Regions from separate parts of the Homo sapiens genome. Here regions 1, 2, 4 and 5 are each linked to region 3. Evidence: fine-mapped expression QTL. A gene starts in region 3. Each other region holds a variant in brackets. All regions are shown on one strand. Distances are between the middles of the regions. Region 1 overlaps LOC124900478 (a long non-coding RNA gene). Region 2 holds the start of NCF4-AS1 (NCF4 antisense RNA 1). Region 3 holds the start of CSF2RB (colony stimulating factor 2 receptor subunit beta). Region 4 holds the start of LOC124900478 (a long non-coding RNA gene). Region 5 overlaps NCF4 (neutrophil cytosolic factor 4).

Region 1 (5,129 bases), 33 kb after region 3:
TTCCAAATTGAAGTTAATCTTCTTAAACCCTGCTGCTGCTTTGTCAACTAAGTTGATTTAATATTCTTCATCCTTTGTTGTTATTTCAACATGTTCACAGCATCTTTACCAGGAGTAGATTCTATCTCAAGAAACCACTTTCTTTGCTCCTCTGTAAGAAGCAGCTCCTCACCTGTTCAAGTTTTATCATGAGATTGCAGCAATTCAGTCACATCTTCAGGCCGTACTTCTAATTCTAGTTTTCTTTCTATTTCCACTACATCTGCAGTTCCTTCCTCCCCTGAAGTCTTGAATCCCTCAAAGTCATCCATAAGAGTTGTAATTGACATCTTCCAAACCCTGTTAGTGTTGATGTTTTGACCTCCTTCCATGAATCGCAAATGTTCTGAATGATATCTAGAGTAGTGAACCCTTTCTAGAAGGTTTTCAATTTACTTGGCTCAGATCCATCAGAAGAATCACTGTCTATGACAGCTATAGCCTTAGGAAATGTGTTTCTTAAATAACAAGTCTTGAAAGCAGGAATTTCTCCTTGATCCAAGGGCTGCATAATAACTGTTATGTTCACAGACATGAAAACGACATTAATCTTGTGTATCTTCATCAGAGCTCTTGGGTGACCAGGTACATTGGCAATAAGCAGTAATATATTGAAAGAAATATATTTTCTGAGCATTATATCTCAACAGTGAACTTAAAATATTCCTAAACCATGCTGTAAACAGATGTGCTGTCAGCCTTTACTGATCCATTTCCAAAACACAGGCAGAGTAGATTTAGCATAATTTTTGTATTAGTCTGTTTTCATGCTGCTGATAAAGACATACCCAAGTCTGGGCAATTTACAAAAGAAAGAGGTTTAATTGGACTTGCAGTTCCACGTGGCTGGGGAAGCCTCACAATCATGGTGGAGGGCAAGGAGGAGCAAGTCCCATCTTACATGGTTGGCAGCAGGCAAAGAGAGAATGAGGAAGGCGCAAAAGCAGAAACCCCTGATAAAACCATCAGATCTTGTGAGACTTATTCACTACCAAGAGAATAGTATGGAGGAAACTGTCCCCATGATTCGATTATCTCCCACTAGGTCCCTCCCACAACACATGGGAATTATGGGAGTATAATTCAAGATGAGATTTGGGTCGGGACACAGAGCCAAACTGTATCTTTTTTTTTTTTTTTTTTTGAGATGGAGTCTCACTCTGTCACCCAGTGCCACGATCTCGGCTCACTGCAAGCTCCACCTCCTGGGTTCACCCCATTCTCCTGCCTCAGCCTCCCGAGTAGCTGGGACTACAGGTGCCCACCACCACGCCCAGCTAATGTTTTGTATTTTTAATAGAGACGGGGTTTCACCGTGTTAGCCAGGATGGTCTCGATCTCCTGAACTCGTGATCCACCTGCCTCGGCCTCCCAAAGTGCTGGGATGACAGGCGTGAGCCAACGCACCTGGCCAACTGTATCAATACTTAAGGGGCTTAGGGTTCTTTGGAATTGTAAATGAGCATTGGTTTCAATTTAAAGTTACCAGTGGCATTAGCCCCTAACGAGAGATTCTGCCTGTGCTTTGAAGCATTGCAGCTTCAAATAAAAGGCATCTTCTTCCGATAAAAAGGCTATTTTGTCTACATTGAGTATCTGTGTTTAGTGCAGCCACCTTCACTAATCATCCTAGCTGGATATTCTGGATAACTTTGTGTAGCTTCTCCATCAGCACTTGCTGCTTCACTTTGTTCTTTTATGTTACAGAGATGGTTTCTTTCCTTAAACCTCACGAACTAATCTCTGCTAGCTTCCAACTTTTCTTTTGCAGCTTCCTCACCTCTCTCAGCCTTCAGGGAATTGAGGAGCATTAAGGCCTTGCTCTGGATGAAGCTTTGGCTTAAGGGAATGTTGTGGCTGGCTTGGTCTTCTATCCAAACCACTAAAATTTCTCCATATCAGCAATAAGACTGTTTTCTTTTCTCATTCATGAGTTCACTGAAGTAGTATTTTTAAGTTCCTGCAAGAATTTTTCTTTTGTATTCATAACTTGACTATTTTCCCAAGAGGCCAAGTTTTCAGGCTATCTAGGCTTTCAGTGAAGCTTAATCATTTCTAGCTTTTGATTTAAAGTAAGAGATGTGTGCAACTCTTCCTTTTACTTGAAAGCTTAGAGGCCATTGTAGGGTTATTAACTGGCCTAATTTATTTATTGTTGGGTCTCTGGGATGAGGGAGGCTAGATTAGGTGTCTAGTTAGGGCCTGCTTCCTCATAGATGAAGGCTTCTCACTGTAGGGTGAGAGATAAGAGAACGGCCCGT[C/A]GGTGGAGCAGTCAGAGCACACAGAACATTTGTTGATTAAGTTTACTGTCTTCTATGACAGATCATGGCATCCCAAAACAATTGCAGTAATAACATCACAGATCTCAGACCACCATGACAGAGACAATAATCATGAAAAAGTTTGAAATATTGCAAGAATTACCAAAAGGTGACACAGAGATGAAACTGCCCCTATAAACTTTATGAAATGAATCAGGGAAGAAGGAAGGGGGAGAAATAAAAGTCACCCACGCTTGCAGCACATTTGGCCTCCATCATGAGGTCGGCCTGCTCTCCAGCCTGCGTCCTCACAGCTGTCTGGTGCCTGTCGTACTAAAATCACATAGACCCTGTTACAAGATCACGGTTCCCCTTAACTGCTCCGTAGATAACAACGTGAACATTATAAAATGTTTAGTTTTCCCTGTGAGATAGTCCTTCAGGTCCCATACACTGATGAAACTACCGACCCAGCTGGTCTGAAGGACCCCACAATGGGCTGACTCACCAAAGAATGCAGTTTCCATATCGTGATGATTTCATCCCCCCTTCCCCCCGACCAATCAACAACCCCAATTTTCCAATTATGGAGGGAGTCTCTCACCCTCTATAATCCCCTTAAAAACCCCAGACCAAAGCTCCTTGGTGAGATAAACGGGAGGGCCTCCTCCCATCTCGTCACTCAGCACTCTGCAATCATTAAACTTTCTCTGCTGCAAACCCTGCTGTCACTATGTAATGGGTCTGTTACTGCACAGTGGGCATATGAACCCATTGGTCCTATAACAGAGGCATGAAGTGAGCACATGCTGTTGGAAAAATGGTGATGGTAGACTTGCCAAAAGCATGGCTGCCACAAACATTCAATTTGTATAAAACACGGTATCTGCAAAGCACAATAAAACAAAGTGCAATAAGATGAGGTGTGGCTGTATATTCAAATTAAAATGAGATGTAGTTCTTTTACTCACCACATTGGTAAATATTACTGGGAAAATAACTGATAATATCCAGAGTGGGAAGTGTGTGGGGGTACAGGTACTCTTGTACTATAAAATACAAGTCTATTTTTTTAATAGACTTTACTTTTTAGAACAGTTTTAAGTTCTCAGCAAAATTGAGTGGGCGGTTCAGAATGCCCATATAATCCCTGCCCCACACATGCACAGCCTCCCCAACGATCAACAGCCCACACTACAATCGTCTTAGCCCACTGGGCAGCTATAACCAAAACAACATAGACCAGTGGCTTATAAACAAAAGAATTTATTTCTCACAGTTCTGGAGGCTGGGAAGTTCAAGATCAACATGCTGGCAGATTTGGTGTCTGGTTAGGGCCTGCTTCCTCATAGGTGAGGCTTTCTCACTGTAACCTCATATGGCCGAAGGGGCGAGGGAGTCTCTCAGGTCTCTTTTATAAAAGCACTGATCTCATTCCTAAGGCCTCTGCCCTCATGAACTAATCACCTCCAAAAGGCCCATCTCCTAATCCATCACCTTGTGGGGTAGGATTTCAACACAGATTATTTTGTAATTCATAGACGTGATGATTGGGTGTTCCTATGCATGTGTGAGATGTGCCACCTTCAAACCTTGTTACTGTAAGAGTTAAAGAAAGAGGAAAGAAGCCAGAAAAGGGGCTCAACAGTCAAAAACAGGTTTATTTTGGAGAATAAACCTGAAAGGGGCTTCTGGCCAATTTCAGTCAGGAGGATTCTCTATTGCAACTATCAACAGCCTGCACTACAATCGTCTTAGCCCATTGGGCTGCTATAACCAAAATAACATAGACCGGTGGCTCATAAACAACAAGAGTATATATTGGTTTTAGAGTGAGAGAGCTTTATCACAGGCTTGGAATGTTTCTGTGTGGGGGAGAAGTTTATGGTGGGGTTGGAATGTCTCTGGCAGAAGGGGAGGTTATGTTGGGGCTGACATCTCTCTGCCGGGGGGGAAGTTATCTCCGGGCTGGCTTGTCTCTGGTCAGGGAGGGATTTATCTTATGGTTGAAATGTTTCTGGTCGGAGATGTCATTTGTGGCTTATGGTCATGCTGACCTTAGTCATTAGGCTGATGACCTTTGGATTTAGGCAATTTTTGATCAAGGGGAACTTTAGAATGGCAGTGCTTGTCCAAGATGGTGATGCTTCTGCTCTGTCAGCTACCATGTGGGCATATTACCTATCTGACATGAACTTAGAAAAAAAGAAACTAAAAAAAAAAGCAAAAAGGATTTCAACGCACTAATTTGAAGGGATATAAACATTCAATCCATGGCAACAGTGGTACATTTGTTACAACTGATAAACCTATGTTGATACATAATTATCACTCAAGGGCTATAGTTTACATGAATACATCTTGACAGGTATCCAGCATTATAACATGGCACAGAATAGTTTCACTGCCCTAAAAACCCTCTGTGCTCCACTTTTTCTTCCCTCCCTCACTCTACCCTCTGGCAACCACTGATCCTTTTTCTCTCTCCATAGTTTTGCCTTTTCCAGAATGTCATGCAGTTGAAATCATACAGTATGTAGCCTATTCAGAGTCACTGTTTTCATTTAGTAATATCCAGCTAAGTTTCCTCCGTGTCCTTTCATGGCTGATAGCTCATTTCTTTTCAGTGCTACATAGTATTCCATTGTCTGGGTGTATCATAATTTATTTATCCATTCTCCTACTGAAGGACATCTTTTTTGCTTCCAAGTTTTGTCGGTTAAGGTTGCTATAAGCATCTATGTGCAGGTTTTTATGTGGATATGTTTTCAACTCATGGGAGTAAATACCAAGGAGTACAATTGCTGATCATATGGTTAGAGTATGTTT
Region 2 (5,000 bases), 46 kb before region 3:
TGTTTTTTCTGTCTCTGTTTCTGTCTCTCTCTGTCTCAGCATATGACCCCGCTCCTTCTCATCCAGCCCCACCAAGGAACTTGAAGCTCCCCCTAGGAGTCTTGCCTACTCTAAGCCAGCCTCCCCTCTCAGGCTCCATCATTTTCCCTCCTCTCTCTTTTGGGGCTCTCTCCTGACAATCTACCCCTCCTTTTCCTTGTATATTCATCTTCCTCTTGATATACCAACTCCCTCTGCTAAGCGTCTCCACAGCCTCAACCCTCTTCTGTCTTTAAACAATCCTGAGCCATGAAACAGCATTCTTACAAGCCTCCCTGAGCCTCCGTGCCCCCAGGGCCCCCAAAGTTCTCTTTCTTCTTCCTTTGGCATCAAATTCACGCACTGTCTCACCTTGGCATGGCCATCCTCTCCTTAACTCCTCAGCTTGGTTTAGCTCTGACTACTCCACTGAAATTCCTCTCGGTGAGGTGGGCCATGACCCATCAATTCTGGCTTCCATGGCCAGTGCCAAGCCTCATCTTCACACCCCCACTCCTTCCTCTGTTAAGCTTTCTCCAACCTCCTGAGGCACCAGTGTCTCCCAATCCCCTTCCTAGCTTACTAGAGACTCCTTCAGCTTCTCTGTTACAGAATCAACCTTCTCTGCTGCTCCTTGGAAGGTGGGGATCCTCTGAGCAGACATCCTCTCTCCCCTGCCTTGTCTTCTCATTCCAAACACTCACCCTGGCAAACTGACCCATGTCTGGGACTTAATTGTCACGTTTTTGCTCCTAACTCCCAATGTCTAGCTCTAGCCCAGACCCTCCTACCGCCGCCGCCATCACCTCTGTCCATCTCCTGGACACCAGGAGCCAGGCAGGTTTCAGACTTGCTTCCTCGTAGGGGTTCTCTTGGTGAATGGTTCCACCAGTGCGCCCACATGAAGGCACCTGGAGGGGACATTTGTCTCTTGGTAGCCCGTCATATTTCCTTTTCCTCCAGAACATCTGCCTTGAGCTTGAGGAATTGTTCATTCATCCACTTAACAAATGCTCATTCATCTGGGCATGATTCTAGACCCATGGTTCTTAACTTTGGTGGTATGTGGACGTGCCTTGAGAGATGGAAAGAATCCTGGTTCCTGAGTCCTGCCCCCGGAGATTCTGATTTAATTGCTCTGGGGCAAGTGCTACACAGTGAGATATTTACAAGCTCCTTGGGTAGCTTGAATGTGCAGCCGGTGTTGCCACTGTCCTGGGTGATGGGGGTACAGCTGTGAGCCAAGCAGGTGAAAATCCTGCTCTCTTAGAACTAAGAGTCGTGTGTGTGTGTGTGTGTGTGTGTGTGTGTGTGCGCTTGGATGAACAGGCAGTAAATAAAAAAGTAAGACAAGAAAAATATCAGCTGGTGATAGCACAACTGAGAGGATGAAAGTTGGATGGTGCCAGAGTGGCCACTTCAGTGCTGTGAAAAGATAACAGGGAAGAATGCTGAGCCATCGGGAAGGGGCTCTGGCCAGGGTTCCTGGCCTGTAGGGGCAGCCCTGAGCCCCGGGGCCATGTTGGGCCAGGCTCCTAGGACAGCTCTTTGTCTCTTCTCAGCCAAAGTCTACGTGGGTGTGAAACAGGAGATCGCCGAGATGCGGATACCTGCCCTCAACGCCTACATGAAGGTACCAGTGGGCCTTGCCACCTTGGCACGTGGAAGGGCATGCAGTATTGGTGGGGGAGCCCACGTACCATCCCTGGGTATGGCTTTGGGAACTGGGGCTGGCTCTCTGGCTCTGATGGCCCCATCTTCAATCCCTAAAGGCCTGGTCTGGGGAGTAAAACAGGATGCGTCCTTAGGGTTCCAGAGATAGGAGCAGGAGCAACGGAGAAGGTAAAAGAGCCACACTAGGAATTGACAAGTCTTCATTTAATGCTCCAAGCCCCACAGGTGAATGTCTATGCCAGGAGTTAAAATACAAAGGTGAATTCCATCCAGTGTCTGCCCCCAAGGTACCCACTGTCC[T/C]ATGGGAATGCCAACAGGTGGATCATAAGATCACACGGAGACATATGTGTGCCTCCATCATGGGGGTGTGGCCAAGCAGGCCGCAGGTTGCTCATATAGCATCTTTGTGCAAACTAGAGTAGGCCTCCTCTGGGACAACTCACTCCCTTACGTGAACATGGGCTGGATTTTAGCTACACTCATGGGTCTTGGCTGGGGGCCCTTGTGTATTCTCCGACTTGCAAACTCTGCATCTCTATGAGATGGGAGCGTAGAGGAAGGAGCATCTTAAAGGCAGAGGCCAAGGTGGTCAGGAAAGGACTTCCACCAGCCACAGCCATCCAGGAAAGGGGCAGTGTTCCTCATGAGGTGGCAGTGAGTGCACCGTCGCTAGAGACCTGATAGTGACCTCAGGAAGCTGGCAAGCGAAGCCCTCCTCCCAGCCCAGCGGCATCCTCACAGCTGGAGAGCGCTGGGCTAGGATCCTTTAGTCTTGACTCTGACACTGACTGGCTGGGTGATTTGGGGTGAGTTGCCCATCCTCTCTAGGCCTTGGTTTTCACACTTGTGAAATGGGGCAGTGCCCTCTAGTATCACAGGAGTGAAGTTGGGATCTGTCGAGAACAGGATGAGAAAGTGCTTTGTAAACTGTGAACCTGCTTCCAGAATGTGAGAGATCTTGACTCCTGATGGAGGGAAGGAGCAGATGGAGGGCAGAGGAGGTGGGAGGAAGGAGGAGAGAGCAGGTAGCTGCAGGAATCCTGGGCTCTGAGCAGGGAAGAGGGAGGGAGGGGAGCTGGGTGGGCTCCAGCTGCTCCTTCAGGGTGGCTGAGGCTCCACCCTTCTCCCCCTGGGCTAGAATAGGGGAGTGGGCTGTGAAGGGAGGGAGGGAGGGAAGGAGGAAGAGAAGGCAGGAGGCGAGGCTGGGGAACTGGGGCTCCTCATTCCACACCTGGTCTTAGCAACCAGCAGCCCAGAGGATCCATCTCTGCCTCTTTGTGTCCAATTGGGTTCCTGGAAGCCAGAGATCATTCAGGGCAGGAATCTCTGCCATGGCCACCCCATCCTGTGCTTGCATACCCTCAGAGATGGGGAGCTCACTACCACTCCGCCCTGACCCAGGCTGCCTGTCCCATTGTTGGGCAGCTATGAGAAAAGCCCAACTCTCTGTAAGTCCTACCCACTGGTCTCACCCCGCCCTCATGAAGAATGTGAATCACATGATAATGACAACTGCCTGGAACTGCGTGAAGAGCTTTGACTGGCAACCAGGAGACTCTTGATACACGTTTATTGATAAATGAATAATCTTATTTAATCCCCTCAATAACTTGTGAGTTAAGTGTGACAGAGCAGTTAGGTAGGTGGGATGAGATTTGAATTCACATCTCTGTGACTCCAGGGTTTGAGCTCTTACCCACTGTGCCTCGTTGTAATGAAAATCACAGTAACAATGATGACATCTAACTTTGATGGGCACCTGGTATATGCCTGGTGTTGTTCTAAGGATTCTGCATGTATTTACTCATTTAATTCTCACACAATCCCACGAGGGAGAGGCTATTATTGTCCCCATTTTATTAATGACCATCTGGAGCCAGGTTTGCCCAAAGCCACCCAGCTGGTGACAGGCAGAGCTGGGATTCGATCCCAGGAGCCCCTGGCTCCTTAAACACCTCCCAGGCTGTCCCCATATGACAGCCTTTTCCGGGCTCTGCATCCCCAGTTCCTCTCGGACAAAGTTCCCCGACCCCACCTCATCCTGCTGCCCCCATGGGATCCTCTGCAGGGCTCTGGGTGCCTCTGGAGCCTCAGCACCCAAAGCCAACCCTCAGTGTCCCCAGACCTGTGCGCTTGGAGTTTGGTGAGATGACCCCGCCAGGCTCTGGGTGCTCGCGTCCTCACAGCTTCAAAGTCTTTGCATCGTGGTGGGTGTAACCAGCTTGGATGAAACAAGGACACTAGGGCTCAAGTCCGGGCCCTGTCACTTAGCTCGGCTCCTCTGGGCCAGGTACTTTCCCTCTCCAAGCATCAGTTTCCTCAACTATGATATGAGATAAAGTATCAGGAAGCATTTTGTAGGCTATAATGCCACCAACTGTTGTTAATTTGGGTTATTTTGGGAGCCCCCCACCCCCGCCAACTGTTGTCTCACCTTAAGCTTTGGGTAGCCTTTAGTGGCAGATGGCTCTGGGTGCCCCAGCTCTGTCCCTTGCTAGGCTTTGTGGCCTTGAGCATATCCCTTCACCTCTCTGATCCTAACTCAAGGGATGTCATGAGATGGAGCAAGGGCGCGCATGTGATACCCACCTGGTAAAGTCACCGCCGGGTCATGTTAGTTGTCATCACCATTACTGCTGTTTCTGGAGAACTTTAAGTCTTTTCCAAATGGACTCTTCTCAAGCCCCTGGTCCCTCTCCTGACCTTGGACCCAGGAGCAGAGCTTGTGAAGTGTTACCTTCAGCATGCTGAGTTTTCTTATTCTTTTAAACAACGCATTTCTGTTATCAGGCATCATGCATTAGTAAAGAGAGGAGGGCTGATGTCAGGGCTCGGGGACGGGACATCTAGGCTGGGGTGTCCAGATCTTTCTGCTGACTACCCCACCGGTTCTGCTGTCTCACCCACACAGAGCCTGCTCAGCCTGCCGGTCTGGGTGCTGATGGATGAGGACGTCCGGATCTTCTTTTACCAGTCGCCCTATGACTCAGAGCAGGTGCCCCAGGCACTCCGCCGGCTCCGCCCGCGCACCCGGAAAGTGTAAGTGACCAGCCCCTGGGCTTCCACATGGCCAGAGCCCTGGGTCCCTGCTGGAAAAGCATCTCTTTTCCCTGAAAGGAGAGAAGGAAAATACAGATCAGCCATATCCCTGGACACTCCAGGATGATTTGATTTATTAGATGGGTTTAGAAAGTCATGTTCAGGCTTGGAGGGACAGAGGGTGTGTGCCTTTCAATGTGATAATAAGGATTGGAAGACGAGGACTGGGATATTGACTCCAGAGAGTTTGGTGCCACAGCAACTACTGG
Region 3 (5,129 bases):
GCCAAAAAAGCATAACCCAGTTCTAATCATCAGACAGAGCCAAATCGAGGGACATTATTCAAAACAACCAACCTGCAGTCTTCGAGATGTCGAGGAAAAAACAAGGCATCTGTTTCAAACTGGAGGCCCGAAAGACATGGCAACTAAGAGCCATGCATTTAGAGAGAATGCAAAGTCCCGGATGGATTTTCTTGTTACAAAACCATTATTGAGAAGCTTAGCGAAACTCAAAGGGGGTTTCCACATGAAGGGTATGTGAGAGTTCTTTGTATCATTCCTTTAACGCTCTGTATTTTGAAATAGTTTCAGAATAAAAATGGAAATGGAAAAAAATGCAATGTTAACATATACGAGTTACTACTTTCAACAAGTTATCTTCCTTTTCATGCCTCAATTTCTTCATCTGTAAGGTGAAGACAGTAACAGCTACATAAAGGTTATTGGGAAGAGATGGAGAAGCCCCCAGCCGAAGGTCTGCTCACAGCGTAAATGCTCAAGCCCTGGTCATTATGAGTACTACGTTCTTGCCAACATTTTCTTGGGTTTCTTAGTCTCTAAAAGATCGTCAATTGCAAGACACGGTATTTTACATACCACTGAAGGAAAAAACAAACAAACAAACGAAAACATTCAATGAATTCCTGACGGTGTGATTCTTCTCGCTTAGAACTTTTAATACTTATTGAGAGAACTCTGTTAGACTCATTCAAATGTAGATTTTTATCCCCTGCTGCTCTATGATGACTTTTAAAAGGAAAGGGTCAGTCAAGTGAATTGGCTGAGGTGTTCCTAAAGCTCCTTCACATTTTGGGTCTGGTGTCCGGAGTGATTTTGACTCAGAGTCTCGGGTTCTTCGTTTCTCCACCAGACAGCATCCTCTGTGCTCCTGAGGGCATCCAGGCCCGCAGCCTCCCAGTCCCACAGAGGACCTCAGCAAAGACAGGCAGAGTGGGGACACCTGGGAGAAAAGAGAGCCCGGGACGTCACTTTAATTCCATCCTCTCCAGCCCTGGAGAAGCCCCTGCAGGGTTTTTCCATGCCAGGCAGGGACCTCACACTGACCGGAGTGCCTGAGAGAACCACACATGCCTTCCTCTACCCTGGGCTTTCTCTGCTAGGGTGAGGCCCTGCCAGCTCTTCCTGGCCAACCCTGCCCTTCCTGGTAGGAGGAAAGCAAAGAACAACAATCAGGCCAGAATTCCAGTGGCTTCGAGGCAGGTTCCTGCCCCTCCATTTCCTCCATTCCCCTCATTCTTGCCCTCCATTCCCCTCATTCCTGCCTGCTGCCCTTTCTCCTGGGAGGCAGCCCCATGTAGGAGAAATATGACTGCGTTTTGTTGTGTCTTGGCACTGTGATTCATCTTGTCTTTATTCAAACTTTTCATATTTGGTTCACCGTGAATAGTTTCTGCATCAGTTGGGATTTTTTTAAACCATATTGCATTAAAATATTACTTACAACAATTACTGAATTTTTAAATGCCTGTTTAAATTTTGAGCACGAGAGACTGCCTCACTCACCTGACCTTAATTCTGCTGGCCCTGCTGTGCTCAGGGAGCCACTCATTCATTCATTCATTCATTCATTCATTCATTCATTCATCTATTCATTTGCACACAGTCAAAGGTGCAATTTCTCCTCTGTACCAGGCCATGTGCTAGGTATTTGGGAGGGAAGTGCAAGCCGGACACAAGCCAGCACTGAAGATAGTGTCAGAAGAAAGACAGCCATGAACACACATGACCATATGACACATGGTGGGGTGGGGCGGCAGGGCAAAGAGGACATCGGGGAAATCAACATGCCACCAGCTACCACTTGTAGGGGGTTCTCCTGTGGCCAGCTCTGAGCTAAGGTCTTCCTGCACAGAATCTCACTGGATTCCCTCAACAGTCCTTCCAGGTTTGTAGATGCTTCTGCAAAAGTAACAGACAGATGGATGTCCCGAGGCTTGGGGAAGTAACACGCAGATGATTTGCACAAGGACACGCTTTAAGAAGCAGTGGACTTGGAAGTCCAACACAGATCTGTCTGGCTCTGGGCTCAAACCAGCTATGGTTATTGCAGCCACTTCCACCTGCATCCCCATCAAGCAGTCAGGGAAGGCTGCATGGAGGAGGCCCTGCGTCAGCTGAGGCTTGAAGGAGGCCTAGGAGTTTATAGGAAGGTAAATTGGAGTAGGAGGCTTTCTGGAAGTAAGAAAAGTCACGTGCACTATTAGCAAAGTAGGCCTGGGCCGGCACTGCTTCCTCTTTCTGCTTCTCTGTTTCCTGATGACATCAACATAAATAGGAAACGTGGGAGGCTCACTCTGCCTAGAGGCTCCAGAAGAAGACTGGTCTCTCCCACCACACAGAGGTATGGCCCGGCGTCCAGGAGCAGGGCTGAGGGGTGGGGTCAGAGCAGGGGGGAATGTGGGGAGTCCAGGATGAAAAAGGACAGGGGGAGCCTGGGGGGCGTCCTGTGGGTAGCTGTGCCCTGGGGACTTGGAGGAGTTAGGGCTTGGCCTCTTAGGATGACCTGAGCCCAGACTCCTAGGGCGGCCAGTGGATGGGGAGGCAGCCAGGGGTGCCAAGCTGCTTGGGTGTTGTAGGAGAGCTCTGGGGAGGACTCAGCCTCGCTAGCGGGATCTGGTTGGTCCTGGTGGGAAGGACGCCTAGTGGGGTGAAGAGAGCTCAGGCCTGGGAGTCAGGCACCTATAGTCTGTCTTCGCTTTGTCACTAAGATGCTGGTGGTAGTGAGAGCACCCCCTGTCCACCCTGGGCTTCTGTCTCCTCATCTGTGGAATGGGGAGCATGGATAGTCCCTGACATCTTGGTTTAGAAAGAGAGAGAACGCATGCTCGTGTGTTTGCCCGTGTGTGCATTTGTGTGTGTGCCTGTGTGTGTATGTGCATGTGCGGATGTCTGGGGATGCAGGAGTGCAGAGAGACTAAGAGGCAGAGGGTGAAACCTGGAAGCTTGCTGCGCTGAGGCCCAGAGCTGGGTGCGGTGTGGCTTGAGAAGCTCACTTTGAACTTGAGAAAGAGCCCAGCACTTTGCCCAGAGACATACCAGGCACTATCCAGCAATCTCTCTCTCTCTCTCTCTCTCTCTCAGTCTCTCTCTCTGTCTGTCTGTCTTTTTAGTTATGACACTCTGCCCTGCTGATTTGGGTTGCTGATTTGGGTTGGGGCCCAGGTGTGTGTGTTCTGTACCCAAGTATGCTGGCTGGGTGGGTGGGTATCTGGGGTGCCTGCTTCAGGGTGTGTGCAGGTGTGTGTACTGGCCCTGAGAATGAAAGGGCAGGTGTTTCACTGGGACCTTGTCAGACAGGTGCTAGCGACAAGCTGCATATGTGCAATTTTTAGTCTTCAAAAACCCTGCTGTTATATTTTTGTACAGCCCAATTCTAATTTTTTTCTATCATCTTTCCTGCTTTGTAATCATTTTATAATGAGTAAACATTTCCTATTAGCTTTTGGTCACTCTTTTTTTCATCCAGCAGTTTTATTTATATTGTTCCAGTATACAGATATACCAACACCACAGGATAATTCATGAGTTGTATAAGGAATGTATTTAATGCTAAACAAGCAACTACACAGAAACCTACCTTCATGAAAATTAGAATAATCTAGAATTATGTAGCACAAGAGACAAAGTCCCCAGCAATTTCTTTTCCCTAGTTCCATAGCTTATTCTTTTCACCACATGTATTCTTCCAGAACATTTTCTAAGCATGATACAAGCATATAGTTTTTCTTTTCCTGTTTGTTTTTTGTTTTGTTTTGTTTTGTTTTTGTGACAGAGTTTTACTCTTGTCGCCCAGGCTGGAATGCAGTGGTGCAATCTTGGCTCACTGCAACCTCTGCCTCCCGGGTTCAGGTGATTCTCCTGCCTCAGCCTCCTGAGTAGCCGGGATTACAGGCATGAGCCACCACACGTGGCTAATTTTTGTATTTTTAGTAGAGACAGGGTTTCACCATATTGGCCAGGCTGGTCTCGAACTCCTGACCTCAGATGATCCGCCTGTCTCAGCCTCCCAAAATGCTGGGATTACAGGCTTGAGCCACTGTGCCAGGATGGTAGTTTTTCTTTTTACAGAAATGGGATTATTTTATTTATATATATATATATATATTCCTAATTTTTTCACTTAATATTGTATTTTGGAATATTTCCAAATTTCTACAATAATACATACAGATTTAACTCGTTAAGTAACCCTAAGAAATATGTGGCATTTATTAGGATGGGTACACCACAATTCATCTAATCTCACGTTGATCGACACCTAGATTGTTTCTAATTTTTCCACATCTGTGAAAGTGTTTCTGTAGCCTAAATTACTAAATGCAGAATTGCTGTGCAGAGGTTGTGCGTTAGAAATTATAATAGGTATTGTCAAATCAGCCTCAAAGTAGCTGAGCTAAGCTGACGTCCCCAAGGTAGTGCATAAAGGGTCCAATTTACCTTTAGAGAAATTATCAATCTTCTAATTTTGTCCAATATTATGTATGGAAATTCTCAATGTCGCGTGATTTTTTTCTTTCCCTGATTATGGGTGAAGTTGTACATTTTCTATATGTGGATTGGCCTTTTGGATTTCATTTATGATGAATGTGGAGAAATTTTTGTTCATCTCCTGTTGAATTCTCTTTTACATCTTAACTTTTGGAGTGACTCATTTATTACGTGTATTAATAATCCATTTATATATGTTGAAAATATATTCTCCCAGGTTATGACTTATCTTTTTCTTTACCATGTTTAAGATGTCTTATGTCATATAAAAATGTTTTCATTGTTAAGTCAAACCTGTCATTACTTTTTACTTTATGGTTTCTGATTTTGGTGTCTTGTAAACCTCTAAGATCACAGGTGTCTTGTAAACCTCTTTTTACTTTATGGTTTCTGGTTTGGTGTCTTGAAACCTCTAAGATTACAGAAAGAGTTTTAATAATTTTACTATTTTGGTTTTGACTTTGAGATTTTTAGCCCACCTAGAATTTAGAGAAGTGAGTAATGTGTAAAGTAACTTTTAAAAATAATTACCATCTAATTGTCTTAACATTGCTAATTATGAGTGTGTGATTTCTCCTCTCTTCAATGATTTGAAGTGCCCCTATTACATCCTAGGCTTCTAT
Region 4 (5,129 bases), 41 kb after region 3:
GGCAGCCCACATGCAGAGGAGGAGCCTGGGAGAGCATGGAGCCCCCTCCCAAACACGTCCACACGGCCTGTTCTGCCACTCCCCATCTGTGGCCAGGGCTGGCGCCTCACCTCCAGGGCCTCAGTTTCCCCATCTGTGAACTGGGCGTCGTGGCCTGGCCCTGCCCACCTCGCAGTGAGGAGGAACTAAGATAGGTCATGTGGGGCAACTGTGTTAAATTGTGACAAAATAAGAGAAGATTGTCACCATTGTTACCAGCACCATCCTCAACGACATCAGTGTAGAACGTGCTCCCCAGAAACCCCAGATCAGACAGTAGTGCCTGGCAGGTGCCTGGCTGAGCAGGAGCTCCCGGGAGGGCCTCCGTCCTCCTCTGTCCTCTGTCTACTCCCACCCCGAGGCTGACCTGACACATCCCTCTCTACACCACCATCCCACGCCAGGCAGAGGGGACACCGTAGCCCCTACCCGTGGCCCCTGCACCCAACGTCACAGACTCATTCACCCGGCGAATGAGGGTCACGTTGACGAGCCGCTGGGCATCCTGGGTGTCTGCCCACCCGCAGGTGATGTGGCTGGTATAGTCACTGTAGCAGCGCAGGGTCTGCAGCAGGACGGTTTCTGACAAGAGGGGCAGGAAGGGGTCACCTCTCTCCCCTGCAGGGTCCCTTATCACCACCACCCCCAGCTGATCTGGGGCAGAGGTGCCCTGGGTTGGGAAGGGGGTCTGCCAGGGTGAGCTTCTGCCTGTGGACCCTCCTCTCCTGACAGAAGCACCGTGCAATCCCTGCAGAATGGAGACACGCAGCAGCGACAGGCCCTGCCCCCCAGACCCCCAGGCATCAACCCAGCCTTGAGATGAACCCCAAGCCAGGACGCTGCTGGAGCAAAGGTCTGGAGGTGGAACCACTGAGGTGCAGCGAGTGTCTGCTGGGGAAGGAGGAGAAGGGAAACGGTCAGAGCAGCCACCCTGGAGCCTGGGGGCCTGGAGTGCCGTGCTGAGAAATATGGGCTGGGAACCCAGACACACTCAGCTGGACTTTCCAGGACAGGATGAGCAGGAATGTGCAGGAGGAGGGAAGTGAAGGAAGCCCAGGGAAGGCCGGGGAAGAGACGAAGCAAGGGGAGCAGGAGGAGGGTGGGTGGGCAGGGTCCTGGGGGTATGGTGCGGGCCTCCTCCAGGGTGCAGCAGTGAGGAGGGGGCAGGGAAGGGGTGGGAGCCACGGAACTCACCTTCTGCCCCTGCCAGGCTAAGTCCCCAGCACAGGGCCAGCAGGGCCATGAGGAGCAGCTCCCAGGCCAGCACCATTTTCCTGGTCAGCTCTGGACAGGCAGGTGCTGGCACAGGTGGATGCTGGCCATGGGCTGGGGTGGGGTCTTCCATGCCCTGGAGTCCTGTGTTCCTGCCCAGCTGGGAGCCAGGCCAAGCTGATCTCACCAGGTCTTGTTATTCCTCCATCCATGAATTGCCATCCTACCCCAGGTCTTGAGAAAGGAGATGTGGGCCAGGATAAGGCCCATCCACCCCTCTCGTCTTCCCAGGGATATGGCCGATGAGGAGGGAGAAGGCCATGTTGGGGGTACGGGGAGCCTGGTCCTGCGCCTTCTCCACCTAGTGTGGATCTCCTCCTCTGCCACTCTCACCCTTCCCCGCAGTGCTGGTGTAGATTCTGTGTGTTTGTATTGGGTGCTACTGGGTTGATGCCCAAGTGGGCTGCGTTAAGCTCTTCAAGTGATTTTGGCAGATAAGCTTTGTGGATCCACCCACCACAGATGGAGCCTGTCTCCTCCCAGGTCTTGAGGATGCACAGACTCCCTTTGGGCCACCTCACTCAACACCAAACACTCCACCATCCTTCCTCACCTGCCCCAAGCTGTTACTGCCCATCCCTTCTTCTCTGCAGGAGCCTGAGGCATTTCTTAGTTTCTTGCCCTTTGTGATGTCAGAAGAAAAGACAGAGGTCTTCTTTTCTTCTTTCTCAACACTTCTGAAACCATGAAACACGCAAGCCTCCACCCACTCACACACCCACATACACACCTACACATACCTGCACACACATGCTCAGACAACCCTGATGGGACCTGACCACCCTACGAGGGCGCTGACAAGACCTTGAGGATGCTGGGAACGAGCCAGGAAGGAGGACAGGATAGGAATGGAGTTCCTGAGGAGGCAGCAGGGCTTCTCGGTACAGAAAATGGTGAACTCTCAGTCTTCCTGCCCTGGCCATGCTCAGCTGAACAAAACCACACCAGCTGGTCTCACTTAAATTCAGGATTACCATCGGAGGCGGGGGTTGTGGGGAGGCTCTTAACGCTGCCAGAACCCCAAATGACACTTCCCAGCAGCAAGGAGGAACTCTGCCCTTCCCAAGAAGCTATTTCACACCTCTCCACTTCCGTCACACCTCTACTTCCCCTG[C/T]ACCCCATTCCCATGCCCCACTTCCCCTGCACCCCATTCCCATCCCCCACTTCCCCTGCACCCCATTCCTACACCCCACTTCCACTGGACCCCATTCCCACAGCCCACTTCCCCTGCACCCCATTCCCATGCCCCACTTCCACCTTAAGGACTCACGTATACCCAGGCACTATACAAACACACACACCCACAACCACATGCACAGACGCCAATGCAGGCACCCCTGACTTGCATCAAAGTCAACACCCAAATGGGCCAAATGGCTCCAAGTGGAGGAGGAGGGGCAAAAGACAGGCATGGGCAGAGGGAGAAGAGGCTTCTGCTTCTGGCCATAATGGAGTAACTAGGACCAGGTATAGCCTTCTACTTTAGAAGTATAAAACTGGACAAACGATATTAAAAATCTGTTTTCAGCTGTTAGAAAAGAGGAGTCCTTCTATATGATCGCTCAGAGAGTGAAAACAAACACGGTAGGTCCTATGATCATCCTACCTTTCTTTTCTTTTTCTTTTTTTTTTTTTTTTTCTGAGAGGGAGTTTCGCTCTTGTTGTCCAGGCTGGAGTGCAGCGGCGTGATCTCGGCTCACCGCAACCTCCGCCTCCCGGGTTCAAGTGATTCTCCAGCCTCAGCTTCCCGAGTAACTGGAATTACAGGCACTCGCCACCACACCCAACTAATTTTGTATTTTTAGTTGAGACGGGGGTTTCTTCATGTTGGTCAGGCTAGTCATGAACTCCTGACCTCAGGTGATCCTCCCACCTCGGCCTCCCAAAGTGCTGGAATTACAAGCATAAACCACCGTGCCTACCTTTTTCTACCTTTCTACCACTTTCTTGACTGTGACGTAGGTAAAAGAACTCCAACATGACCATGGCAGTCTTGCTGTGTTGGGCGATAGGGGTCTGAGTCTGAAGAGGCAAAAGAAGCTGGAATTTGGTGTAGAAAACAAGAGAAGAAAGAGCTGCACAGAGAAAGAGACCCAGCAAATCTACACAGAGATCCTCTTGCATGTACTGCTGCACACTAAACCATGCATGTGTGGGGTGGAGCTCCACTAGACTGTGTAAATAGTACACAGAGAGATGTATCTGAACAATTTCCAGAACTCACCAAGGTCTGGGAGATGTTCAAGTTCCAACAAGCCAGAATAGGAATTCTTACTGAACACCTCACACATTCAGTAGAGAACCAAGAAGAAAAACACCTTAGTGCCAGCACTAAACCAGCCCAGGAGAGGGCCATTCTAAAACTGCTCTAGGCCAGCATGGTGGCTCATGCCTGTAATCCCAGCACTTTGAGAGGTCAAGGCGGGTGGATCACTTGAGGTCAGGAGTTCGAGACCAGCCTGGCCAACGTGGTGAAACCCCATCTCTACTAAAAATACAAAAATTAGCTAGGCGTGGTGGCAGGTGCCTCTAATCCCAGCTATTTGGGAGACTGAGGCAGGAGAATTGCATGAATCCAGGAGGCGGAGATTGCAGTAAGCAGAGATTGCACCACTGCGCTCCAGCCTGGGCAACAAAGTAAGACTCCATCTCAATAATAATAATAATAATAATAATAATAATAATAATAATAAAAGTCCTCTAAGGAAGCTTAAAAACAAACCTTAAAAGATCAAACTGATTGATATGGTTTGGATTTTTGTCCCCATCCAAATCTCATGTTGAAATGTAATCCCCGATGTTGGGGGTGGGGCCTGGTGGAGGTGTTTGGATCATGGTTGGGGGATCCCTCGTGAATGGCTTGGGCCATCCCCTTGGGGATGAGTGAGCTCTCACTCTGAGTTCACAGGAGATCTGGTCATTTAAAAGTGTGTGGTACCTACCCCTACGCTGATCTCTCTCTCTCTTTCTCTCGTTCCTGCTTTCATTGTGACGTGCCTGCTCTCCCTTCACCTTCTGCCACAATTGGAAGCTTCCTGAGGCCTCCCCAAAAGCTGAGCAGATGCCAGCACCATGCTTCCTGTACAGCCTGCAGAACTGTGAGCCAATTAAACCTCTTTTCTTTATAAATTACCTGGTCCTGGGTGTTTCTTTATGACAGCATGAAAATGACCTAATACAGAAAATTGGCACTGAGAGTAGGATATTTTCCATATTAGGTCATTCTCATATTGCTGTAAATCAATGAATGCCTTAGACTGGGTAATTTATAAAGAAAAGAGGTTTAATTAGCTTACAGCTCTGCAGGCTGTACAGGAAGCATGGCACCGGCATCTGCTTCGTTTCTTGGGGAGGCCTCAGGAAGCTTACAATCATGGCAGAAGGTGAAGAGAGAAGGCACGTCACACAGTGAAAGCTGGTACAAGTGAGAGAGAGAGAGAGAGAGAGAGAGAGAGAGCACTAGTGCAGAGGCAGCTGCCACACACATTTATTTTAGTTTTTTTTTATGTTTTTATTATTATTTTTGAGACGGAGTCTCGCTCTGTTGCCAGGTTGGAGTGCAGTGGCACGATCTCAGCTCACTGCAACATCCACCTCCCTGGTTCAAGCTATTCTCCTGCCTCAGCCTCCCAAGTAGCTGGGATTACAGGCGCACACCACCACACCTGGCTAATATTTCTATTTTCAGTAGAGACGGGGTTTCACCATGTTGGCCAGGCTGGTCTCAAACTCCTAGCCTCAGATGATCTGCCTGCCTCCGCCTCCCAAAGTGCTGGGATTACAGGCATGAGCCACCATGCCTGGCTGGTGCCACACTC
Region 5 (5,112 bases), 38 kb before region 3:
AGAGACTGAGGATGGTCTCAGAAGGCCTCAGGGAAGAGATGCTATCTGAGGATAGCCCTGGAGATCCAGGCAGGTTGGGGAGCCTGCGGGAACAAAGCCTTTGGGGAGGCAGGTGTTCGGTGGCAGCAGAACATTCTTGGAGCTCATGCTTTGGTTCTGACCCTGAAAAATGGGTTGCTTAGGGCAAGTAAGTTAACCTACTGAGTTTAGTTTCTTGGTCTGTAATGGGTGTCTCAGCAGGGGCACTATTGACATTGGGGCCAGATGGTCCCTTGTGGGGTTGTCCTGAGCATTGCAGGCTGTTCAGCAATATCCCTGGCCTCTCCACTAGATGCCAGCAGCACTGCTAAATTGCACCAATCACATGGCTCTCCAGATATTTGCTCCTGAGGGGTGAAATCGCAACCACTTGTGTAATATGGGACAACAGTACATACCTTGCCCACAGCAGTAAAAGCTGCTGATGAAGAGTGTGAACTCAGAGTCAGCCTGTTTGGGCCATTTCCTAGCTCTGTTTTTCACTAGCTTTGTGGACCTTTGGAAACTTGCTCAAACTTGCGGTTTCCTTTTCTGTAAATGTTTCTTCATCGGCTTCCTGGAAAGGGTAAAGGAGGTGGTAGATGGCCAGGGCTCGCCCCAGAGCCTGGGTGTGCGGCGCCTGGCCAGGTACTAGGGTCATTAGGAGACTTAAATGAAACTTCAAAGCCAGGGACTTTCCCAGTCACTGCTTTGTCCCTGTGTGGCCCACAGAAGGGCTGTGTTCTGACTCAGTGAGTGGAGGTGGGAAGTGGCTGTGTTGGGCCTTGGCCTGGGACCAGCCTTTTGTATTAGGTCCTGTCTTCAGACTTAGTGCTCCTGTGGGGAGTGTTGAAGGAGGTTCTGGGACAGGCCCAGAGGCAGGGTCAGCCCCCAGGGGTCCCAGGACCTTTAAGAGTTGGGTTGGGTCCCTAGCGTCCAGGCCCTGGAGAGGAGCTAGTAGTGACCACTGGTTTAGCCAGTTTAGCAGTTTCCATTTTACCCTAATCATAGATCTCCATCTCAGGAACTCAGGGCTCTTACAGAGGCCTGAGGAGTATCTCTGGGCCACTTTCCAGAAATAGAAAACATGTATTGCCTTCCTGTTTTCCGGAAAGTCCTACTTATCAGTATGCTGGCTAACTTCTGGCCTCAGGTTGAAGGTGGGGGCAGAGGGGCAGGGAGGGGACCACTTTGAGCCTTGGTTAATATGTTTGTAAAATGGCATGTAAATAATCCATGTTCCATAGGGTCGTTGTGAAGATGAACAGAACACGTGCCCAAAGCCCAGGCCATGGCCGGGTCTGGGTCTGATTTCTGGCTACTTGGTCTAGAGTAGAGGCACAGTTGTATCTGATGAATGAATGAGTGAGTGAGCGGGATCAGCAGCAGGCCCTTCCTCACCCCTCATCCTCTTCCTCCCCTGTTCTATTTTCCTCTGTAACACCTGCTGCCATCTGACTCACTGGATAGGTCATTGTTCACAGCGCGCACAGCGTGTCATTCCCCATCATACTGGAAACTCCGTGGGGGCAAGGACTTATTATTATTTTTTTATTATTATTTTTTCTTTGAGACAGAGTTTCACTCTGGTTGCCCAGGCTGGAGTGCAATGGCGTGATCTCGGCTCACTGCAACCTCCACCTGCCAGGTTCAAGTGATTCTCCTGCTTCCGCCTCCCGAGTAGCTGGGATTACAGGCCCGCACCAACACGCTTGGCTAATTTGTATATGTTTAGTAGAGACAGGGTTTCACCAAGTTGGCCAGGCTGGTCTCGAACTACTGATCTCAAGTGATTCACCAGCTTCGGCCTCCCAAAGTGCTAGGATTACAGGTGTGAGCTACTGCGCCCGGCCCAAGGACTTTTATCTATTTTGAGAGCCCAGAGCCTGTCACGTGGCTGGTTCTCAAGAAG[C/A]CTTTGTTGAATGAATAAGTGAATGAGTGAGATAAAAGCAGCTTTCTATATAAATCCAGATTCTGGCATATTGTAAAACCCAAATATAAGCCTTCTTAGAAGTGACCAGCTCAGCGAACTTCCTCGCTTTCCCTCCTCCCTCTACAGAAGAAGACCCGGACCTCATCTGCCTTTCCCCATCACTAGAACGGGGCTGAGGGCTCTGAGGCGTGGCTCTGCTGCCTCTCCTCTCACCAGCATGGCATCCCTTCTCTTCCTCTGCAGGGCACTGTCCGGGGAGCCACGGGCATCTTCCCTCTCTCCTTCGTGAAGATCCTCAAAGACTTCCCTGAGGAGGACGACCCCACCAACTGGCTGCGTTGCTACTACTACGAAGACACCATCAGCACCATCAAGTCTGTGGCCTGGGAGGGAGGGGCCTGTCCAGCCTTCCTGCCATCCCTACGACCACTGCCCCTCACATCACCTTCTCATGGGTCCCTCTCCCACTCCAAAGCCCCCAGTGGCTCCCAGATGAGCCACAATGCTGTAACAAGCCATCAACGTCCAGGGTGGCCTGGCCAGCCTCATTCCCCTTTCCCCCACCCCACACCCCACTTCCAGCCTGATGCCTCCTTACTCCAGCCTGTCACCCCCTTAGGGACATCGCGGTGGAGGAAGATCTCAGCAGCACTCCCCTATTGAAAGACCTGCTGGAGCTCACAAGGTGAGGGGCTGGGAATGGGGCTGGGGAGTTAGATACTCTGGAGAAGAGAGCGCAGGGAGAAATGTTAAGCACTAGTATTAAGGTGCTGGGGTTTTGCGTGTACTTTGTCTTCTCTTTTTATCCGCAGCCCAGCCCTGCAGGTTAGGCAGCATCTCCCCACTTTAGAGATGAGCGGGGAAGCTGCAGAGAGGTTAGGGGAACTGGTTGAGCTCACGCAGGTTGTGGGTTTAGATCCGGATCTGCAGCTGGAGCTAAAGTCTCTCTGGCTAAAAGCCTTGGACTTGAACCATCCACTCTCAGGGACTCACTACCCCCCCAGGTCCAGGACATTGCTGGACAGTTATTTTACAGAATGGTAACCGCATTGCTACATTTCTGACTATAAAACTTGTACCAACTCATTATATATTAAAAAAGAAATGTCAGTAACCATGTCAGAAAGATACAAAGAAGTGAAATCACCTCATATTTTTACTCCCCTCGTTATGTGACGTACACTCAGATTTCTTCAGTACTTACACCCCACACACACATGCACACACAAAAGTCACTTTGGCTGCACAAAACCTTTCAGTGGCTACATCATTAACATGGCCATGCGCTTTTGCTGGCCTCTTAGGATTTCTTCTGCTTTTTTACTACTCTAAACAACATTGTACAGACCATCTTAGTTAACCTATTTGATGACTTATCTGATCATTTCCTTTGAATGATTTTCAAGAAGTGGATTTGGGGATTAAAGCATTTGCAAGTCTCATAGGCTTCTGGCCCACACTGTGAAATTACTGGTAGAAAGCTCAGATCAATTTCTACGTACACCAGCCAAGTAGAAGGATGCGCATCTTCCCGCACCCAGGCCAGACAGTTCCTGTCCTTACAAGGTTCTCCTCAATAGCCTCACACAGGTGTCTCTCTGAGGCTTTATACAGCCCCACTCTGTGCCCAGTCAAACCCACTCTTCTTCACAACTCTTAATCCTTTAGCACATTTATACACGAGACATTTCAGGCTGTGCCACTAATTTCCGTGAAAGTCTCTTCTCCTTCTCCTTTTTTTTTTTGAGATGGAGTCTCACTCTGTTGCCCAGGCTGGAGTGCAGTGGTGCAATCTCAGCTCACTGCAACCTCTGCCTACTGTGTTCAAGTGATTCTCCTGCCTCAGCCTCCTGAGTGGCTGGGATCACAGGTGCATACTACCTCGCCCAGCTAATTTTTGTATTTTTAGTAGAGACAGGGTTTCACCATGTTGGCCAGGCTGGTCTTGAACTCCTAACCTCAGGTAATCTGCCTGCCTCGGCCTCCCAAAATGCTGGAATTATAAGCGTGAGCCACCGCACCCAGCCTCTTCTCCCTTTTAGGCCTCGATATCCCCATCTGTACAATGGGAGGTTAGATTACTTGGATGACACGGGCTTGTATCAGGCTCTGACTTTTTCTTACTCCTGGCTTCAGGACATAAAACCCTTTTCACCCCCTCTCCCTACCCCTACCTTACGCTTAGGCCCTTTGATTATCCCTGACTTTTCCCATGCAGGCGGGAGTTCCAGAGAGAGGACATAGCTCTGAATTACCGGGACGCTGAGGGGGATCTGGTTCGGCTGCTGTCGGATGAGGACGTAGCGCTCATGGTGCGGCAGGCTCGTGGCCTCCCCTCCCAGAAGCGCCTCTTCCCCTGGAAGCTGCACATCACGCAGAAGGACAACTACAGGGTCTACAACACGATGCCATGAGCTGACGGTGTCCCTGGAGCAGTGAGGGGACACCAGCAAAAACCTTCAGCTCTCAGAGGAGATTGGGACCAGGAAAACCTGGGAGGATGGGCAGACTTCCTGTCTTTGAGGCTAATGGACCCGTGGGGCTTGTAATCTGTCTCTTTCTACTATTTACATCTGATTTAAATAAACCATTCCATCTGAAAGGGGCAGGCTGCGGGAAAGAGTGTCTTTCATGGGGAGTAAAATACCATTTAATGAGCATCCACAGGGCGTCATTTATATCTGGCAGGGGCCCTGGCTCTGAGACCCCTGTCCTGCCACCCCATTTCCTTGCTCTGTCCCTGTGTTGGGGGGAAACCCGAGGGTCCCCAAGCCATACCCTTTCTCCCTCCCACTGCTCCCCTTTTCCTGGGATTGGCCACCTGCCCCACAGAAGTGATCTGCTCTGGGTGCCCTCTGGGGTTCCACCAATGCCAAGTCCTCGGCTGTGTGATGAGGGTCAGAAGCTCTCCTCTGCCTTCCTGTCTCTGCTGCTCTGTGGAGGAGGAAGGCAGGTCTCGGGGTTGGTTGTCTCCACTGTAAGTAGACACAGGGGGAGGACTCTAGTCTCATCCAGGAGGAGGGGGACACAAAGCAACGGGATCTCCTTCTCTGAGCTGAATCTCCTTCTATCCTAATCTACCAAAAATTAAACAGGTGTGACTCCCACAATGGTGGTGTGAGGAGCTTGGTGGACCCTCTCCCCAGGGAAACAGCAGTTTA

The links. PIP is the estimated chance that this variant, and not a neighbour inherited with it, causes the effect.
Region 1: its variant is fine-mapped to the expression of CSF2RB in whole blood (INTERVAL, PIP above 0.99).
Region 2: its variant is fine-mapped to the expression of CSF2RB in lymphoblastoid cells (TwinsUK, PIP 0.95).
Region 4: its variant is fine-mapped to the expression of CSF2RB in whole blood (TOPMed, PIP 0.91).
Region 5: its variant is fine-mapped to the expression of CSF2RB in whole blood (TOPMed, PIP above 0.99).

What each region holds. Positions count from the first base shown.
Region 1 is chr22:36,944,658-36,949,786 of GRCh38, forward strand. LOC124900478 (a long non-coding RNA gene) reads right to left here. Exons shown (of 3, transcript XR_007068091.1): 3 at 3,588-5,129. It also overlaps the pseudogene LOC124905162. Among named protein-coding and RNA genes, the nearest start is that of LL22NC01-81G9.3, 18 kb to the right of the region's middle. The variant C/A (reference allele first, on the strand shown) is at 2,301.
Region 2 is chr22:36,865,812-36,870,811 of GRCh38, forward strand. NCF4 (neutrophil cytosolic factor 4) reads left to right here. Exons shown (of 10, transcript NM_000631.5): 4 at 1,581-1,651; 5 at 4,604-4,731. It overlaps NCF4-AS1 (NCF4 antisense RNA 1), which reads right to left and starts at 4,632. Exons shown (of 2, transcript NR_147197.1): 1 at 4,282-4,632. The variant T/C (reference allele first, on the strand shown) is at 1,993.
Region 3 is chr22:36,911,319-36,916,447 of GRCh38, forward strand. CSF2RB (colony stimulating factor 2 receptor subunit beta) reads left to right here and starts at 2,310. Exons shown (of 14, transcript NM_000395.3): 1 at 2,310-2,359. RefSeq lists an enhancer at 143-844.
Region 4 is chr22:36,952,415-36,957,543 of GRCh38, forward strand. It overlaps LOC124900478 (a long non-coding RNA gene), which reads right to left and starts at 2,246. Exons shown (of 3, transcript XR_007068091.1): 1 at 1,234-2,246. It also overlaps the pseudogene CSF2RBP1. The variant C/T (reference allele first, on the strand shown) is at 2,426.
Region 5 is chr22:36,873,459-36,878,570 of GRCh38, forward strand. It overlaps NCF4 (neutrophil cytosolic factor 4), which reads left to right. Exons shown (of 10, transcript NM_000631.5): 8 at 2,195-2,325; 9 at 2,571-2,636; 10 at 4,170-4,557. The coding sequence ends at 4,365. Among named protein-coding and RNA genes, the nearest start is that of NCF4-AS1, 5.6 kb to the left of the region's middle. The variant C/A (reference allele first, on the strand shown) is at 1,931.